3 linked regions of the Homo sapiens genome follow. The protein of the gene in region 3 purifies or fractionates together with the protein of the main gene of each other region. This does not show direct contact. Each region holds a gene or a part of one and is shown on either strand. Other genes may lie near its edges.

The links. Proteins that work in one complex are often made in the same cells at the same time.
Region 1: the proteins of HOXC10 (region 3) and SNX15 purify together in Homo sapiens (affinity purification with mass spectrometry; 2 studies listed by BioGRID and IntAct, with this or other methods). This does not show direct contact.
Region 2: the proteins of HOXC10 (region 3) and TRMU purify together in Homo sapiens (affinity purification with mass spectrometry; 2 studies listed by BioGRID and IntAct, with this or other methods). This does not show direct contact.

What each region holds. Positions count from the first base shown.
Region 1 is NC_000011.10:65,037,270-65,041,072, reverse strand, and holds the end of SNX15 (sorting nexin-15), read right to left. Parts: intron 2,502-3,803; coding exon 2,244-2,501; intron 1,388-2,243; coding exon 1,281-1,387; 3' UTR 501-1,280; downstream 1-500. UniProt on the Homo sapiens protein: May be involved in several stages of intracellular trafficking. Overexpression of SNX15 disrupts the normal trafficking of proteins from the plasma membrane to recycling endosomes or the TGN.
Region 2 is NC_000022.11:46,352,545-46,357,840, reverse strand, and holds the end of TRMU (mitochondrial tRNA-specific 2-thiouridylase 1), read right to left. Parts: intron 4,075-5,296; coding exon 3,974-4,074; intron 2,398-3,973; coding exon 2,253-2,397; intron 1,852-2,252; coding exon 1,769-1,851; intron 1,000-1,768; coding exon 835-999; 3' UTR 501-834; downstream 1-500. UniProt on the Homo sapiens protein: Catalyzes the 2-thiolation of uridine at the wobble position (U34) of mitochondrial tRNA(Lys), tRNA(Glu) and tRNA(Gln).
Region 3 is NC_000012.12:53,979,992-53,989,500, reverse strand, and holds the start of HOXC10 (homeobox protein Hox-C10), read right to left. Parts: upstream 4,356-9,509; 5' UTR 4,242-4,355; coding exon 3,491-4,241; intron 333-3,490; coding exon 55-332; 3' UTR 1-54. UniProt on the Homo sapiens protein: Sequence-specific transcription factor which is part of a developmental regulatory system that provides cells with specific positional identities on the anterior-posterior axis.

The DNA.
Region 1 (3,803 bases), on a different chromosome or scaffold from region 3:
GCGTTGTAGTCCAGCTACGCCTCTGCGGCTCCGCGCGCTCTAGGGCGGCTAACGGCCCCCATCGAGCGCCAAGTTCAGCTTCGCGCGCTCCCCTTAGTGTTTTTAACGTGTAGCCCGGGCCGCTCCCATGATACACCGGTGTAGTCCCTGCCGCAACCAACCGCTTTGTGGTGAGGCGGGGCGGGGCGGGGCTGAGGCCACGCCTTCCAGCCCGCTGAGCAATCAGGATTTGGCTTTGGGGCCTCTGAGACAAGTACCCGGGCTTTGGGTTCCTCTCCTTCGTCCCTTCCACCCAATAAACCGGCTCCATCGGCTTGTCCTCTATTTCCCTGAGACTATGCTCCCTATTTTCTAGCTCAGGGGCCAGCAAATGTTTTCTGCAAAGGGCCAGGTTGTAAATGTTTTGGGATTTGCAGGCGGCAAAGACTCAACTCTGCAACTGTTTCAACTGCCAGTGTAGCGCGAAAGCAGCTATCACAATACTAAATGAATTAGCCTGGTTGTGTTCCAACAAATTTTATTTATGGACTCTTAAATTTCATATAATTTTCACTTGTCACATATAAATTTCACCTGTCATTGTCACAGAATATTATTTTGATTTTTTTAATCATTAAAAAAAGTAAAAACCACTCTCACAGCCCTTACATTAAAAAGGAGGTGGGCCAGATTTGGCTGCAGGTGGGAGTTTGCAGACCCCAGTTCTAGAGGGGTAAACTAATGGTTTAATGACCACAGCTGCTGCTCACACATCAAGACAGACAGACATGGGCCGGGCGTAGTGACTCATGCCTGTAATCTCAGCACTTTGGGAGACTGAGGCGGGTGGATCACTTGAGGTCAGGAGTTCGAGACCAGCCTGGCCAACATGGTGTAACCCCGTCCCTACTGAAAATACAAAATATTAGCTGGGCGTGGTGGCATGTGCCTGCAATCTCAGCTACTGGGGAGGCTGAGACAGGAGAACTGCTTGAACCTGGGAGGTGGAGGTTGCAGTGAGCCGCGATCCCACCACTGCACTCCAGTCTGGGCGACACAGCGAGACTCCAACTCAAAAAAACCCCAAAAAGACAGGCAGGGTCAGAAGTGTGAGTCCTTGATTCCAAGGTGGCAGGTGTAATCAGGGAGCTAAGAATTCATTATTTTTCTCATTCTTGGTCCAGTTACCTACAGAAATGGCTCCTGTAATTACAAGACCAGGAGGTAGGGCCAGGCCCTGGGGAGAGGAGAAGGGGCTGGCAGTGCAGGAGCGAGAGTCCCAGGGAATGGCCCACTCCCTGTTAGGGTGGGAGTTGAGACAGGTGCAGGCGCAGGATCTCCTCTGCCCGCTTCAGGTACTCAGCTGCCTTCTTCTTCACACCTTCCTGGCGGGCAGGCAACGGGTCACCTGTGGAGAGAGAATGCTCAGCTGAGGCACCTGGGCACCACTGGCCTGGTCAGAACCCCTGGTCGGGTCCTTTACAATTCGCAGAGCATCACCATGTGCTTTTCCCTCCTCTCTGGGGCCCAGCATCCATTCTCCTCAGTCTACAAATAAGAAAACTGAGGCCATGCTGGGCGCGGTGGCTCACGCCTGTAATCCCAGCACTTTGGGAGGCCGAGGTGGGTGGATCACGAGGTCAGGGGTTCGAGACCAGCCTGACCAACATGGTGAAAGCCCATCTCTACTAAAACTACAAAAATTCGCTGGGCGTGGTGGCACGTGCCTGTAATCCCAGCTACTCAGGAGGCTGAGGCAGGAGAATGGCTTGAACCTGGGAGGTGGAGGTTGCAGTGAGCCAAGATTGTGCCACTGCACTCCAGCCTGGGCGACAGAGCGAGACTCTGTCTCAAAAAATAAAAATAAATAAATAAAAATAAATAAAAAATAAAAATTCAAAAATTAGCCAGGCATGGTGGTGGGCGCCTGTAATCCCAGCTAGTCGGGAGGCTGAGGCAGTAGAATCACTTGAACCTGGGGGGCGGAGGTTGCAGTGAGCCGAGATTGTGCACTCCAGCCTGCAACAAGAGCAAGACTCTGTCTCAAAAAAAAAAAAAAAAAAAGAGGAAGAAGAAAACTGAGGCCACAAGAGGTTAAAAACAACAACAACAAAAAAACAGAAACAAAAATCTGCCCAGGTTACACAGCTGGTCAGTGAGGAGTAAAAGGGCTCCTGATCCGTGATTTGCTTGTTTTTTTGCTCCCTTCATCACTGCCCCACCTGGGACCCAGGCCTGACCCTCCACCCTCAGTCCCTACTCACTGGGGACTCCCTGAAGCAAGACGTGCACGCCGTCTCGATAGCCCTGGAGTGCAGCAGCGTAAGCGCCTGCCTTCTCATCCCGCAGGGCCTGGGTGATGAGCTCTGTGGCCTGGCTTAGGTAGGCAGGGGTGGGCCCTCCTTCCCCATCCTCTTCCTCCTCCTGCCCTCCTGGCTCCCAGGGTTCCTGGTCCAGCCTTGCAGACTCCACCTCCATCGTTGCCAGCTCAGCCACATGGGTGGGGCTGGGGGCTGCGCCTTCTGCAGTTAGAAAGGGAGGACTCGGACCAGACTGGCCCTTCCTTTCCCAGGCCCTCTGCCCAACCCCAAGACTTCTTTTGTCCATCAGGGTATCAGCCTGTCCCCAGTAGAGGGGACCAATGCCAGAGCAATCCAGAAGTCGTCTGTGGATCAAAAACTAGCCATGAGCTATTTGATCGATAGGGTTCATGTGCTTCTGTAAAAACAGCCTTACCTTCCTAATTATGTCTTTAGGTACACACTCTAGTTTGTAAGCTCTGGGTCACTGGTCCTATTTCCCTCTTGACTCCAGTTGACCTAGAAATCCAAAAATCCCCTCCAGAAAGTTTCCCTGAAGGATGCTAGGCCACCACCACCAGGCTGAGGGTAGAAATGCTCCAAGACTTGGAATAATCTTAGAATAGGAGACTTAGAGAATCTCAGGGGTTTTCTGAAGCCTTGCAGTTTCAGCTGAGGCCCCCAAATGTAAAGACAGTGAGTGACAGGTGTCCTCACATTTCCCAGGTAAAGGCTCATTATATCCCCCTGGACTGGCTAAAAGGGGGTCGGACATCCTACCTGCAGCTTACACACGAGGCGACTGGAAATCTGGTGCACCTTTGGTGAAAAGGCCTCTGAGGGGAAGGTGCGGGGGCAGGAAGCATCATGATACCCTATCATCCTGGAGAGGGAAAAAGTGGGTGCCTCTCTAACCCCATCCCTGTGAGTTCCATGAGAGCCCTGAGAAGTCCGGGCCTCCTGCAGGAGGGAGAAGGCACCTCCTGGCTGGGCCTACAGCCCTCCATGTATTGCTCAGGGAGCAGAGAGCAGAAGAGTACCTGGGACACCTGCACACTCGAGTTAAGGAGTTTGCTGTGAAGAAGGGAGACACAGGTGCCCACTCCTTGCCTCGAGAATTCTGGTGGTGAGAGGCTTGTTGGAGGTGCCCACCATGGCAGGGTAGGGAAATAAGGCAGTGTCTGAGCACACTGCAGTTCCAGGCTTTGGGGACTTTTCCCATGGGCTGAGTGAATGTCTCATTGGAGCTGTCTGTGAAGGGTCTTGAAAAGATCCTGGCTGGACACAGTCACTCATGCCTATGATCCAGCACTTTGGGAGGCTGAGGTGGGAGGACTACTTGAGTCCAGGAGCTTGAGACCAGCCTGGGCAACATAGTGAGATCTCATCTCTACAAAAAATCAAAAACTTAGCTGGGCATGATGGTGCATGCCTGTGGTCCTGTCCCAGCTATTTGGGAGGCTGAGGTGGGAGGATCGCTTAAGCCTAGGAGTTGGAGGCTGCAGTGAGCCGTGATCGCACCAC
Region 2 (5,296 bases), on a different chromosome or scaffold from region 3:
AGGACACTCCCTGCTGCGTGGGGGCCTAGGCTAGAAGGAAGGGTGCCCCAGGTCAGGGGACACCCAGTGGGGAGATGGGAGGAGGGGTCAGGATGGACAGTGGGCCCCATGGCAGCCCCCACCCTGACGCACCAGCAAGAACTCAGGGCATCTGGGCAAGGCCCTCTGCGCACCACCTGGCTGCCTCTGGAACCTTCCCACCCAGAGAAGGGGAATGCACCTCTGGTCCCCGCAGGAACCTGTCTTGAGGCACCAACAACACGCTACGAAGGACTCAAGCCCAGCAAGAGGAAGAGAGCCAAGGACACAGGTCAGCATCGCAGGCACCTACTCTGGAGTCCAGGAGCAGGGATACGGGGGCAGAGGATGGAGCAGCTGGGACCTCAGGGAGAGGTACGCAGGTTGCCATGGCTGCGTCTGCAGTCCACCTGCCTTTCCACGCCAGGGAGTCAGTGATGTGGAGCCCCCTGGGCCCCAGTGGAAGCAGCGATCAGACTATGTGTCCTTGAAATAATGTTTATTCCACGCTGTCCCGACAGCCCCCTCTGCAGGTCCCCTCGGTGTACTCTGAGGTGGGAAACCCTCCCTGGGGGCGGTGAAGGGGAACTCGGGCCACCCCACCAGCCAGCAGATGCTCCAGCAGCCAGAGCCCCAGCCTGGAGCTGAGGCTCTTCCTGGGGCTCGCCGGGCCCCTGCAGGCTTTTCGGACCCTCAGCCAGCCCGGCTTCCTCTGCTTTGGGCAGCAGCAAGCTGGCCCTTGGGCACCTGGACTGCTCACCAGCCGCCCAGCCATGGGTCCTGCTCTCCAGGTTCCTTCTAGCAGATCCATCTCTGTCAGAGCAAGGGACTCAGGCCTGGACCATCTTCTGGGCTGTCACTGGGGCTCTCAGTGGCCATCCCAGCTCTGCGCTGGCCCTTCTGGAGCGTGTAGGCAGACGGCCCCAGCCGCAGGATCTTCCCGCTGCCCAGGCACTCGTCCCCCTTGTAGAACACAGCAAACTGTAGGGGAGAGACCCTGGCATCAGGGGTGCCACAGGGAGCCAGCCGAGGGCAGGCAGGGGCAGAGTGCTCCCCTATGGGGCCTGGCCTGTGCTCGGAGCACCAGGCACTGAGCTCCCAGGGGAGCAGGGTTTTGCTGCTGCTGCTGCTGCTGAACAGGAGAGGAGAGGCCTGGGGCACCCAGTGGCTTCACTAGGGAGGGTCTTCAGGGTACCTCTCCCTGAGTGGGACAGTCACAGGGGCCTCTCCTGGGACTCCAAGGGACTGGCAGGTCTCTGCACCCCTTGGGAATGTGGAGCTGTGACAGGAAGGAGCATGGTGGCAGCCAGAGGATGCTTCCGCTTCCCTCACCCCAGGTTCCCTCCCACCACCTGCCCCTGGAGATTCCTCAGGCCTACACCCACCAGGCGCCCACCCTGGGAGCTCCTGCACACTCGGCCCACAGGGGCCCCGACCCTCTGCCTCTTTGAGCACTGTCCTCATGCCCCTTCCATTTTCTGTCCTCGCTTCTGGGGCCCGGGCAGCAGCTGAGCCTCTCAGGGCCCGAGCAGGAACTGGCTGGTTGGTGACACCAGAGTGGAAATCCTCTCACAGTTGTCACTGTGGGAGGAGCCCCCAGGGCAGGGCTGGTGGCACTCTGCCCTCACCAGCTGTGTGACCCGAGCACACCCTACTCCTGGGCCTCAGCCCCTTCCTCTGTAACCCGGGTGCCCTGGCAGGGTGCAGAGCAGTACAGTCCTCCCCGGGCTCACCCCCACACCCCACGCACCTGTCCTGTGGCAAGGGCACGCACAGCCTGCACAGCTGTCACCCACACGGTGCCATCTTGATTGAGGGTCAGCACACAGGGCACTGGGTAGAAGAGAGGGGCCCTTGGAGGGGGCACAGGCCTTTCCTGGTCGACCTCAGGCCCCCAGGGAGAAAGGAGCACCAGCCCACGGGGTCAAAAACCCCTGCTTAGAGGGGAAGGGCAGGGCACCAGCCTGGGCCCTGGACGCAGCAGGACACTGCGGGGCAGTGTACACACTTGCTTCAGCCCAACACGCCGGGGCCTGCCTGCATCTGCTCCCAGCACCCCCAGGCCTCGCTCAGGGCAGGCACAGGACACGGGAGTTCTAAATACTTTAGGTAATCTCCAAATGATCTCCACAACGGGACTTTCCTACCCCAGGGTCTCCCATCCCTGGCCCAAATCTGGCCTCAGGAAGCTCAGCTTCAAGGGGCCCGTCCTCAGGAGCCCTCCCGTCAGTCACCTAGTGCCATCTGGTGGCGGAATCGGAAGTGGCACTCCATCATCTTGTCCCGGACCAGTGCTGCGGGAGGCTCCTCCGCAATCCAGTGCACGCGGCTGGTCCTCAGCAGGTCCCTGTACAGGGCTGGGTGGTCTGTCCGGGGGGCCTGCAGAATGGAATGTGAAGGTGGGGACGCCGAGGGGCACCTGGCCCCAAGGCCGGCCTCAGTGTGGTCCCTGGGAACAACTGTCCTACCAGCACACACACACACAGGTAACGGTGCTGGCACCGCTCGAAGTGTTCTACCCACAGAAATTCATCTCATCACCCGCCGGGCCTTTGAATCCCCATTTTACAGATGAGGAGACTAAGGCCCAGGAAGGAAGTACCATGTCAGAGTGGGCAAGAGGCAGGGGTGAGATCCGAGCCCATGACAGTGAATGCTGCAGGTTCAAGTCTGACTCAGGCCCTCTACCTGCAACCACCTGTGGGGCAGCAGCACGGCCCCCCTCGAGGACTGGTTTTTCTATTCGCAGGGACAGGGGCCAGCCACACCACGGGCTCTTCTCTCAAGGCCACCCCAGGAATTCCTCCACACACCAAATGGCTGAGGAGAAAGGAGGGACTGGTAGCTGCTGGCTTCCCACAGGTGCCCCAGGACTGGCCCTGGTCTGGGGGGCCCCAGATACCCTAGGTTGGTTCTGAGGCCCCTGCTCCCTGTCACCCACCCATGGCCTCGGGCCATTGAGACCTGGCACCTCCTGGGATTGTGCCAAGCCCCGCCCCTGAAGCAGGACGAGGAGCATGAAGTTAAGGGCTTTGGGTTCTAAGCAGGCACCAAGACCCGTCCAGGGACAGGAGGCCGTTGGTTAACCCTTCTGGTCTTCTCACAGCAAACTGAAATCTAGATCATTTAATTCATTCGCAGCCAGGCTTTTCTCCCCACAGGTCTTCCTAGTAAGGAGATGTCCTGGAATCGGTGGGTGGGGCCTGCTGGCCCCCGCCTCCGTCTAAGAGAAGGCGCCCCAGCATTCGTGCCAGAACATGAGCCGGCAGCCAGGGTGCTGAGAGTGGGCCTTCTCAGCTCCACGCGCCAAGGTGGAGGCCGGGTCACTCAGGGAAGAGGCTGTGCTGAACACGGCAAGCAGCATCCCCGGCCTGACCCACAGATGCAGCAGCACCCGCGTCCTTGCTTTTCCACCCAAGCTGTGACAACCAAAAATGCCTCTAGACACTGGCAAGGTCCCCTGAAGGTGGGGTGAGCTTGCCGCCACTGAGCGGCCCTGCTTTGAGGCCAGGGTCACAGTGGTAAGGTCCCCACTGTGGTGGAAGGCTTGGTTTGATCCTGGCTTGGCCATCTGCACCTGCCTGACAACAACTCACTGGATCCTACCATGGTGGGCACCATCCTTGGCACTGAGGCCATGCCCTCTCCACCGGATGAGCCACCCAAGCTCTGGGCGTCGCTGTCCTCTTTCATAAAATTGGAGAAACTGTATCTGTGTATCGGGGTTCAGGGATGATTAAGAGACCAGCATACAACTCAGCCTAATGAATACCTTAAAACTCTCCTGCCACCATGGCCAGTCCCAGGAAAGGCAGGGGACCAAGGACAGGAACAGAGTTAGTCACAGCCTCCAGGAAGCCACGGCTGCTGGAGGCCTTCTCAAGCCCTGGTCTGGAAGCACTGCTGGCCCTGCCAGAACCAGCCCCAGTGCTGTCTCAGAGGCCGGCCCACTCACCACAAACACGTCACCCTTGACGCTGTCCTTCTCCACCACGTACCAGGGCTCTCTCAGGCCACCTATGTTTGCTCTCTGGCCCAAGGTATACAGGAACCAACCTACAGAAAGACAGTTTCTCCATGAGGCTGGGCAACAAGTTACAGCCCACATGTCACGCCTCATCATGAAGGCAGATGCTGGGAGGGCAGCCCAGAGCAGGCCCAGCAATGGTGTAACTCACTAGGAAGATACGATTCTCCAACCACCAAAGCCAGCCCTGACCAAGCACCTGAGCACATCTCATCATTGTCCAGGCCTGGGCTGGACATGGGGTGTGGTGGCCACAAAGAAGGCACCTTGTGCCCCAGAAGGTGCAGGTTCCAGCTGTAGGAGCCCCTGACCCTAGGCCCAGGATGCGGCTGGGTGCCCTGTGTGACGCCAGGGGCCCTTCTTGCTGAGCCCATGACATAGCTGCACGTCTTCACAGTGTCCATCTAATGCAGTAACTGCATCAGGGCTACCCCCAGCTGCTCTGCGCACCCTCACAATGTCACACAGCAGATGGCAAACTCACTGCCTCCCTCCCCTGCAGTGGGGCACACAGGCAGAGAGAACCTCATGGGATTTACCACGTGGCCTGGGCCGGCAGCCTTCTTCAGTGAAGTGAACTGCAGGTGGAAGCCATGAGTCATCCAACTGGCTCCTGCTGGGGCCAGGGCTGGCAGATACATGGGCAATCCTGTCTGGCAGTTCTGTCCCAAGCAAAGCTGTCACCTCCACCTGTCTCAGGAATGCCTAGCCCCGGCTCCGCCTGCCGTCTCCCCTCCACAAGAGGTGGAAGATCTCCAAGTGCAATTCACTGCAAGACGCCCTACACCTGAGCTGCAGCCTGGCTCTCCTGGCCAGTCCCACAGCTCAGGTCTGTGCTGTGTCAAGACCTGCCTGATCATCACGCCGGCAGGCACATCCCCGCCACTGTACTAACCCAACAATGGCTGCACTCTGTCCCCACAGCAGGACTGCACACTGTGACTGACTCGGAGCCTGTCCCCTGACACCAGGCACAGCACAGGCTCACGCAGGCCTCACCGCAGTAAGGGTCTGCACATGAGCGAGCAGCACTCTGGCCAGCGCGGACGCCTGATCCCATCGCTGCATGTGGTCCTTAATCATTCACACCATGCCGGGACGTCCACCTTACTCCCTGAATCAGAGTGGAGTTTTGTGTAGTTTAACATTTTCCTTACACAGGAAGGAAATCATTCTTTTTACAGGGACTTGATACGTAACTCACAGAGTATAGTCCTTCCAAGTCAGAGGCGCGCTTTTCATGAACTCCAG
Region 3 (9,509 bases):
GGAGGAGGGGCGGGGAGAGGAAGGAGCGGGAAGGGAGGAGGAGAGGCCGCGCTCTCAGGTGAAATTAAAATTGGAGGTCAGTTCCCGGATCCGATTCTCTCGGTTCATTTTCTTGAGTTTCATTCTGCGATTTTGAAACCAGATTTTGACTTGTCTGTCTGTAAGGTTAATGGTCTTGCTAATCTCCAGGCGGCGCTCTCGCGTCAAATACATATTGAACAGAAATTCTTTCTCCAATTCCAGCGTCTGGTGTTTAGTATAGGGGCACCTCTTCTTCCTTCCGCTCTTTGCTGTCAGCCAATTTCCTGTGGTGTTTTCTGCCTTTATCTCCTCTGTTAAAAATAACATTATTTACATAAGTATCCCTCGAAGTCGAAAACCCTCTCAGCGCTGCAGCCTTTGCCAGCCTGCTGTGGGGTGGCTGAGGGAGCACAGGGGAGCTGCTCTTGCCCCAGGGGCCTGGCGGTGGGCTCCTCTTAGGCTCAAGGTTCTTACAATTTCTTTGGGGTTTAGACTTAGGGAGATAAAGGGAGGAAGTTCTTGCCTCCAAGCATTTATTAAATTTAAATTACCCAAGTCCACCTTAATCTAAAAGATCCTGAGTACCCTGGCTTTCCCCCAGCTGGCTGACCCTGGCAGATTCCCTAAACCTTGCCAGATCCCCCCTTCTCTCTGTTCCATTCCAGCTCTGGAAAAATCCAACCAGATGGAAAAGCATTTTCCAGGCCCCAGACCAGAGCAGAGTCCACCCACAGACCAGAGAAATTCCCAGAGAGCTTTGACCTGTTTCAACTCAGTGGAGGGACTTTGTTCCAGGATCTGTGGCCAGAGGCCACTGCAGTGGTCCCTGTCCTGGGCCCCCAGCTCTTACCCCAACCTGAGCTGCCACAGAGTGACTCTGCTCCCTTAGGTCTCCCATTGCCATCTCTTCCTCTCTTAATCATTTCTCCCAGGTATGTGCAGCTGAGGGGAGCTTGTAAGAGCAGCAGAGGTCAGGGGCAACAGAGCTGGGGCAACCTAAGGGGTCCTCAAACAACTTTCCTGGCCAAAGGACCTAAGGTCAAGGGAGAGACATATCCTGAGGAAATGCAGCCTCCTAGAAACCCCCTGCCCAGTCTGTGCATACGTAGATGTGTATGCCTGCAAGTACACATGTATACCTGCAGAGATACACACACCTATACACATAAGTACACACACATAGATATGTACATGAGTCTTTTTTTGTAAGGAGATACTATAGAATACTGTGTATTTCCCATGAGCTTATTGACAGCCTCTATCCCTGACACACATTCTTGCTGAAATGGACCAGCCTTGCTTCTCAAGTAGCAGAAGGGAACCTGGCCATCTTTTTAAGGGCAAAAAACAGAGTCCAAAGACCTGAGAGGACACCCAGCAAAGGACTCTGCTGATGGCTCTGAGCTCTCTCTCCTCCCTATTCCAATGAGGCTGCCAGGTTCCTGGATCTTATCTTGTTGGGGGCGGGGTGAGGCGGGGGCCTAAGAGGAACCAGAAAACACACAAAAAAGGCAAACTTGAGGTTGCAGTCTAAAAAAATCTGAATGTCCCGAATTTTCTCTCCTGTCTCTGCACCTGCAGCTTCTTGCCAGATTGTTTACAAGCTCTCCACATCTAACTACGTCCTGTTTATTTTCTTACTGGAGTTGTTAGGTTTGGTGGGGTGGGGGGACAAGACAAATTATAAATGGGGAAGTTTAATCAAAAGCTCTCTTGCCTCTGGCCTGGTGGAGACATCAAAACAGGAGGAGAGGAAAGAAGGGCACAGAGAGGGTACAGGGTAAGAGGGATTCCTTGGGGTGGGAGGGATTAGGTTGCTGTGGGGACAGCTAGAGGAAAGGGAGAGCCTATGGGAATGGGTGCAGGTCGAGTTAAGAGGTGAACTTGTTAACCTTGACTTTGCTTTTGGTGGGGGCTAGAATGCAGGTTTTCCTGCCCCAAATCTGCTCCCTAACCAAGCTCAGGGTCTGTAGAGAGGGTATAAGATTAAACCTTCACACTGCACACGTGCCAAACGAAAGGCTTTGAGGCTGTAGGCGCCTCACTCTCCCCCTTATCCTCATGAACACACCAGCGCTCATCTTCCAGTCAGTGTCTCTATGGGGATGATTTACCAAGACCACCTTTGCAGACCCAAGGGGATGAGGCTCTGCCCTTGCCCGCCAAAAGAGTGCCTGTGCATGTGTGAGCGGGCATGCGTGAGTGTGCAAGGATCATGCAATATGGATGTGCGTGAGTGTGGCACAGGTCGCCCGTAGGCATGCGTGTGCGTCGCATCCATATACAAAGCACCAGGAGATCCAGGCCGCCCCCAGCCTGCTCCGCTCTCAGTATTTCATCTTCCTCTACACCCAATGAGCCCCTTATATACTGTCACCAGTAGCCGGTGTTGTGGGGAGCAGGTTTATTCTTCCCCGTTGGTTGGGCCTTTTTCTGAGGCTCTTGCTACAACTTTTCAGGAAAAGTCGTTCCCCTCAGCTTTTCCTCCCCTGCTCCCGTTTCCTCCACATTCTTTCCCCAAGTATCAGAGAAAGATCCCGAAGGCCCCCAGCTCCTACAGCAGAAATGAATCTTGAACCCTGAGCTTGAACTCTGGCTGGGCTTTCTCTCAACCAAAATTACAGTGAAATCCAACCAAAGCCACATTCCCTTTCAGGAGAAAACCTCTTGCCACGCACACAGAAATTTCCCAACCACTCATTTGTAAGCTGCTTTTGGAAACCAATGAAAAAAGATAATTTAACTAGAAAAAAATGGAAAAGAAAAAATTAAAAGAGGAAACAGAAAACTTACAACATTCCAAATGCCCTGTTCCAACGCCATCCAAGCCAGGCATCTGGAGGAGGGAGGGACGTGGCGGGCAGCCCTTCACCTCCACCTCTTCCGGCTCCAGCCTCGCTGCCCAAGGCCCCCGGCCGAGCCAAAAGCCGCAGGAGCCCAAGCCGCACGCACAAATCAGACCCACAAACAACAAATCGCGTTTCGCAGGAAACAATTTTCAACTGGGAAAACGCAGTAAAGAGAACTCCCCCCATCTCCCCAGCCTTCCCTAGTCCCTGGCCCAAGATCGCCATTTTAGGCTTTTTGCAAGCCCCTGACCTGAGCTGGGGGACGTCAGCTCCCCAGGACACCAGCATTGAGAAAGCAAACCACAGCCAGCACGCGCCTGGGAGCAGCCACCCGTCCGGTGCAGCACACTGCGCCTGCAGGCGGCCCGCGGTGCGCACCGCCCCCGCCTTAGCACCCATGGCCGGGGCAGGGCCGACACCTCCACGTCGCCGCTTACCTTCCCCAGCTAAGTGACGCGCCACCAGCCTGGAGCTCAGCGGACGCTAGTCGAAAGCCAGGGTCGCATTCCCGAAATGGTCTGGGGCCTCCTGGGCCCAACCCTCTCCCCTGCCCCCCTCCCCGGCCGCGAAGACCAAGTGCCGGAACGTCCCAGTGGCGCCCGCGGCCCAGGCGGCCTTACCTTTCGCTTCGTTATCCGAGGTGTCTGGGCTGGAGTCGGCAGCTTTGGCCCTCTCCTTTTCGCTCTCCGAGGGGCTCCCTTTAGGGCCCGCCAGGCTCTGCTCCGTCTTGATTTCATTGGGGCTGGGGGTCTGGCTGTCGGACTTGGGGGTCTCAGGGAAACTCACTTTGCCCCCCAGCTGAGGCGATTCCAGATGTTCGGCGCGCGGGTTGAGACTGGCCCGCTGCTCGAAAGGGGCTTCGAAGTCGTTGGCCCCAGAACAGTGGGGCGTCTTGTCCAGCGCGGAGTAGCTCGGGCTGGCGCGGTAGTAGCTGGGCACGGGTACCTCGTGCTCCCCAAGGCAGGACTCCGGCAAGGGGTGGGAGTAGAGAGCTGCCTCGGGGCCACTTTTCGCCCGCTTCTCTGCGCTGTACATGCAGCAGACATTCTCCTCCTTGACACTAGGTGGGTAGGAGCAGGAGGACAGCGGCCTGCCAACAGGTTGTTCCAGGCGATAGGCGGCTTTGGGGTCGCCCCAGGAGTCCAGCTGCGAGAGGTAGGACGGATAGGTGTTGAGGGCGAGGCTGGGGCTGCTGCCCTCGTCCCTCTTGGAGAGCGAGGGCGCGAGCCCGCAGCCCCTCATCACCCCGCAATTGAAGTCACTCCCAGACTGCATATACATGCCTGCGCTCCGGCTATAGCGCTCTCCTCCGCCGGGCGCAGCCAAGGGCTCCGCGTACGAGTTCGGAGTTACATTGCGAGGGCATGTCATTTTCAGAGAGAGGGGTTTTTAAGGAGCAATACTACAGCGGAGGAGCTGACATCTTTTTTTTTCCCCATCCGGGAGGGGGGGCGCGGTTGGAGGGGAGGGAGGAAAAAGAAGGGGAGGGGGGGAAATATCAGCTCCGTAATTATCCGCGCATTCGGTTCTCACCATGTGACGGCTAGACCAATGGGATTTGAAAATGGCCTTGATGATTCAGACGGCCGTGACGTCAGCGGGGTCAAGTTGTCGGCAGGCGGAGCGCGCAGAGTGGAGTAACAGCGCCATCTAGCAGCTGCCTCGGGGTAGGGGCACCGGAGCCCTTCCCCGCGAACAAAGGAAGCGCCCCCCGGGCGGCAGGGGAGGTAGAGGGGTGGAGGGGGGTGGGGGTGGGGGTGGGGGTTCTAGGAAGAGTGGGGTTTGTTTATCCAGTAACCAGCCTGTAACTCCTGGGGAGAAGGGGGCGGAGAGGGGGGAAATGCGGGAGAGAGGGAGAGAGCGAGGCAACCCGGGGCTCAAAACAGTCAAATTCAAATTAAAAGGTCGAGACACGAATCAGGTACTTCTCCCCACTCTTCATCTCCCCTTTCCATATCCCCGGACCCGACTCCCACTTCTTACCTTGGGGATGGGAGTGGGGTGAGGTTTGTGGGGGGGGGGGTTTGGGGGGATCTGATGAGCAGAGAAAGGGGAAAAAAAGTTAAGGAATACCAAACAGGACTAAAGTTTCTGCTCTCCCGCCTCCTCTTTTCCCCGGGCTTGGCCCTCGGGGCTGGAAGCTTGGGGGCCGCGGCGCTGGAGTTGCAAGTTTCCTGTGGGGGTTGACTGGGAATCTCCAGCCTCTAGGGTGGGCCAGGGAGGGGGTCACGGTCACTTCATGGCTGCTCGGAAAAGGAGGTTCCGAATGGACGCGGGGTAGGGGAAAGAGGAAGCCAGAGACCAGAGGCACCCGATCCCCGACCCGAGAGCTGTGGCCTGGGCCTGGCAGGGTGGGCGGCTCCTGGGTCACCATCTCAGGGGCCCACAAGGCTTTGGCCTTGGAGCCGGTTCTGCTGCTTTACTTCAGGCCCTGGCGGTCCTCGCTTTCCGCTTGACCTTGCCCCCGCTAAAACAGGGAATATTCCGGGAAAGAAAGAGGGAACCTGCGGAGCCTCGGTCAGTTTGGAGGAGTCACGTATCACACGGGAAACCAGCACACAAGACGCAACAAAACCCGACCCAGAGAAGCGTCCTTTACAGAGCGCACGGGCTGGGAGCATGTTTGAAAGAAGACAGACCAGTCTATTTTTGTGGTTGTTTTTAAATAAAAGGAAGAAATAAGGGGAACCGTATGTTTCAAACAGTTATTTCCGTTTCTCCATCGCCTTCTTCCAAAGCGAACTAAACTCTCCACCCCTTCCTCAGGAAACGGAATCTGGAGAACAACTTGTCTTTCCTGTCGCCCCACATTTTTCCTTGGACAGAGCCTAGGGTTCAGACTTTCCGAAGGGCTGGAGTTTGGCGGGGAAAGGACTGGAGCCCAGCGCCCTGGAGTGGAGGAGTGAGGAGGCTAGACCGTTTCTAAGGAGGCCCAAGCCCGCTGCGGCTAGAAGACCGCAGAAAGAAATCCGCCGAATTTCCCCATCCAGGGGTGGAGAGAGAAGACGCAGGGGTTCCTGAACCTCCGGAAAACTGGAAGGAAATGTGGAGTGTATGATTTGCTTGCAGGACCGGCCAGGGGAGATTTGAAATGGTTTTGTGTTTTCATATGCAGGGTCACCGTGGCCTCAGCATGGGGGTTATCCAGGGCAAGGTTAGGCTGTTTAGGCCCCAGACTTGGGACAGTCCGGGCAGCAGTCAATCCAGGGAGCCATTTGTCCCACCGCCCATCCCGCGGGAAACGGGCGAGACTTTATGGCCACTCTGTTTGTATTATCTGCATTAGTCTTTCCCCACCAGTTTGATCGAAACCGTTCCCTTTTACGAGGACCCAACGAAAATTTCCCGTCATATTTATCAGCCAGGGATAAAAATTTAGTATGGGAACTGATATTTCCTCATTTATGGGACGATGAAATTAAATACCAAAGCAATTGAGAATTATATGGCTTTGGGGGTTCCCTCCCCCCTCTTTCACGTCTCCTTTATTTTCCTGCCTGGTGTGCTTTTCCCAGGAATTTAGCGTCCCAGTTCCCTACCCTTACCCCCCACTTTGGAGTCTGGTGGGTCCTTTTCCCCACGGCCAAGTGGCCCTTGGCCACCTCAGCCTTTTCTTTTTTTTTTTCTCTGGGTGTTAGTAGCTGGGGGCCAGGACAGTGCTACCCGAGCCTCTGCCCAGGCCAGCCAGGACAGGCTGGGATCAGAGAAAGGTTTCCAGGGAAGAGCCGCAAAGGGTTTGAGCCCAGCCTGGGAGGGGGTGAAGGAGTCGGCAGGAAAGGGTGAAGGAGATAAACTTCAGACAAGCCCCAAGGCGTAGCCTGGGGAACCAGCAGACAGGGAGCAGACCCATCGGCCTCAGGGGTCCCACCACCCAACCTCTTTCCAAGCCCACCTCTCACCTTAGCCAAGGGAGAGGACAGAGTCGCTTCGGAATTATCGCCATCATTAATGAAAATAATACTCCAGGGAGGAGCCTCCCGCCTCGACTCCCACCTCCTCACAAGACAGAATAGTGTTTAAAGTTGAAATAATTAGAAGTATGATAAACACGGCCGATTAATGAAAAAAGAAATCAAATTCATCAGCCTAAGTGGGACCCCCGGTGGGACAAATGTTTGCCTCTAATTACGCAAGATAAACGAAAACCCGGTGCTGCTAAACTAGAGCCCGCTCGGACGCAGACCTGAATAACTTGTTGGGTTTTCACAGACTTTGAGATTCTGCTTCAGTGGAGGTAAAAGGAAGGAAAAAGTGAGTGTTTTATCCTGGCGAAGGGAGCATTTGTGCGGGCCTGGGTCCCAGCCCTGCCCCCTTGGGCTCGGTCTTTCCCGAGGCCACGAGCAAAGGCTGTTTCGGTCCTATTGTCCGGGCCTGGCGTTCAAAGGCATGCGGGCCGCCACAGCGACCCCGCCTGCCGCCACTGCCAGGCACCCACCGCCCTGCCCCACAGGGCCAAGATCCTTCAGCCTGTGCCCTTGGCAACTGGATTAGGATCCAGGGGAGGCCTGTGTTGCTAGAATCACCCACATATGGACTTTTATTAATCCATTTCCCCAACTTTCCGAGGGCGCTGAGACACCTATGCCTATGCCTACGTCTGGGGCTCCCCCCTCTTACCTCAACTTGGGAACATGAAAATCCAGGGGCTGCAAGCCACAGTGGGGCTCAAGCTGTGCATACGACCTGACAAATCCCACCCAGGGCCAATGCCCTGGCCCCTTTCTCCCTTCCCGGGTACCCAGATCCTGGAAAGGCAACAAGGACGGGGCTGGGCCTCCTTCTGTCTGTGGGGCTGTGAGCAATGCAGAGGAGGAGGGTTCAGGAGCTCTGTGAATACTCTGGGAGGATCCAGCGGGTTCCACAGGGCAGCCCAAGGGCTGGGGCGCTAGGGGTCCCCACGTGAAAGCAGAAGAAGGAAAATATGCTCAATGAACAAAAAAGGACCTTTGTTGCTTTCTTGGCTGTAGCCCTCAACACACCCCAGAAGCACCCTGGTTTCTCCAGCAAAAAATTGGAGTTTCCCCAACAGGTTAAGAAAGTCAACTGGGAAATTCTGAAGATGAAGTGAAAAAGGAAGAATGTCTTTCCCTTTTGGGTTAAATAATAAAATAAAAATAAAGTGTGTGTATTGAAATCTTTTTAAGCAAAGAGGAAACAGAATCACACCAGAGATTGCAGGTTTTTTCCTCTTGCTTTGGAGGCCGAGATAAATCCTTCCCTTCCCAAAACTTGAAGAAAAGATTCGCTTTTCTTCTTCACTAGCACCAGGCTCTGCCCCAGCTGAATTGGGAGCAGGGAAATTCCAGGCAAAATTCGGAATGCCCAGAGACCCAGAAAAGAAAAAGATTTTCAAACAGGTACTAGAGGGAGGTAGGAGGCTGAGGACACTTAGCAGGGCCTCTGGTCTACTGTGGACCTCACAGCCCCCCAGGCAGCTCGGCCAGCAGAATCTCTCACGTCTTGACATTGCACACACTTGCACACAGATGCTACGGAGTTCAGCATCTATACACGTGTCTAACTTGCACTTAAATATGTGTACACAGCCACAGATATTCACTTTTACCCAAAGTGCTGTCTAAGATCTCCGAATCCCGAATTCTAATAACCCGCGCCAGTCTGACTGCTTCCTGGCCCTGCCGAAGCTGGCCAGTTATTTAATTTTGTCCCCTGAATTGAAACCAGACCGAAGACACCTCGGAGAGAAGCTTTGGGAGGAGGGTGGGAGGATGTCTTAGGGGCAGGCCCTGCCCCCCACTTTAGTGGTTTGCTTCTAAGTTGCCCCCAGTAAGTCAGGTTTCTAGCTAGAGTCGGGGCTGTGGTTAGGCTGGCTTGCTCCGGAGAAAAACACCGAACCTTTCTTACCGGTTAAGTTCCTTTTCAAAGATCTCTGTTTGCCTTCCTTTCCTTTCTTATTTTTCTTTTTTTTTCTTCTCTTCTTTCTTTCCTTCTTGTTTCATCCTTCTCTTTTCTCTTTATTTGCTTCTTTCTGTTTTTCTTTTTCTTTTTTCTTCCTGTAATTTATTTTTTCCTACTTTTTCCAATCCTTTCTCTTTCTTGTCTTCCTTATTTCTCCCATTTCCTTGTTTCCTTCTTTCTTTATTATACAATTAATTCTTTGCTCTTTTCTCTCTCCAATTATTTCCTTCCCCCTGACTTTCTTTCCTAGCCTTTCTTATTTTTCTCTGGTGTGCTGGGCTTAGTGAGGGGGACAGCACCAGGCTCAGTCGCATGCCTCCCTAGCCCAGCTGCTAAGGCTTGGAGTTGACCTTCTCCCGCCTACAGCCTTAGCTCAGCTCCTCCTCACAAGGCGAAGTGTAGGGCTGCCAGTCATCAGCAGCCAGGCCCCAGCAGTCGCCATTAGAGGGAGGAAAAATAGGATTCTGGGGCACATCCACACTAGTGCTGATGGCTTCTTGAAGTGCTAGGATTCAGGGGTCATGTATTTTCACTTCCATCACCCCAAAGGAGGCTTGTCTACCAGGCCTACCTTTGGAGAAGTCTGTCCCATCTTTGTCCTGACCTCCGGAGCTGAAACATTAAAATGGCCCAAAGTTGAGCCCAGTTGGTGCTCCCAAGGCTGGAGTCAGGGGAAATGAGCGAGTGGGATTTTGTCAGTCCCAGGTTGAGGGGCAGGTC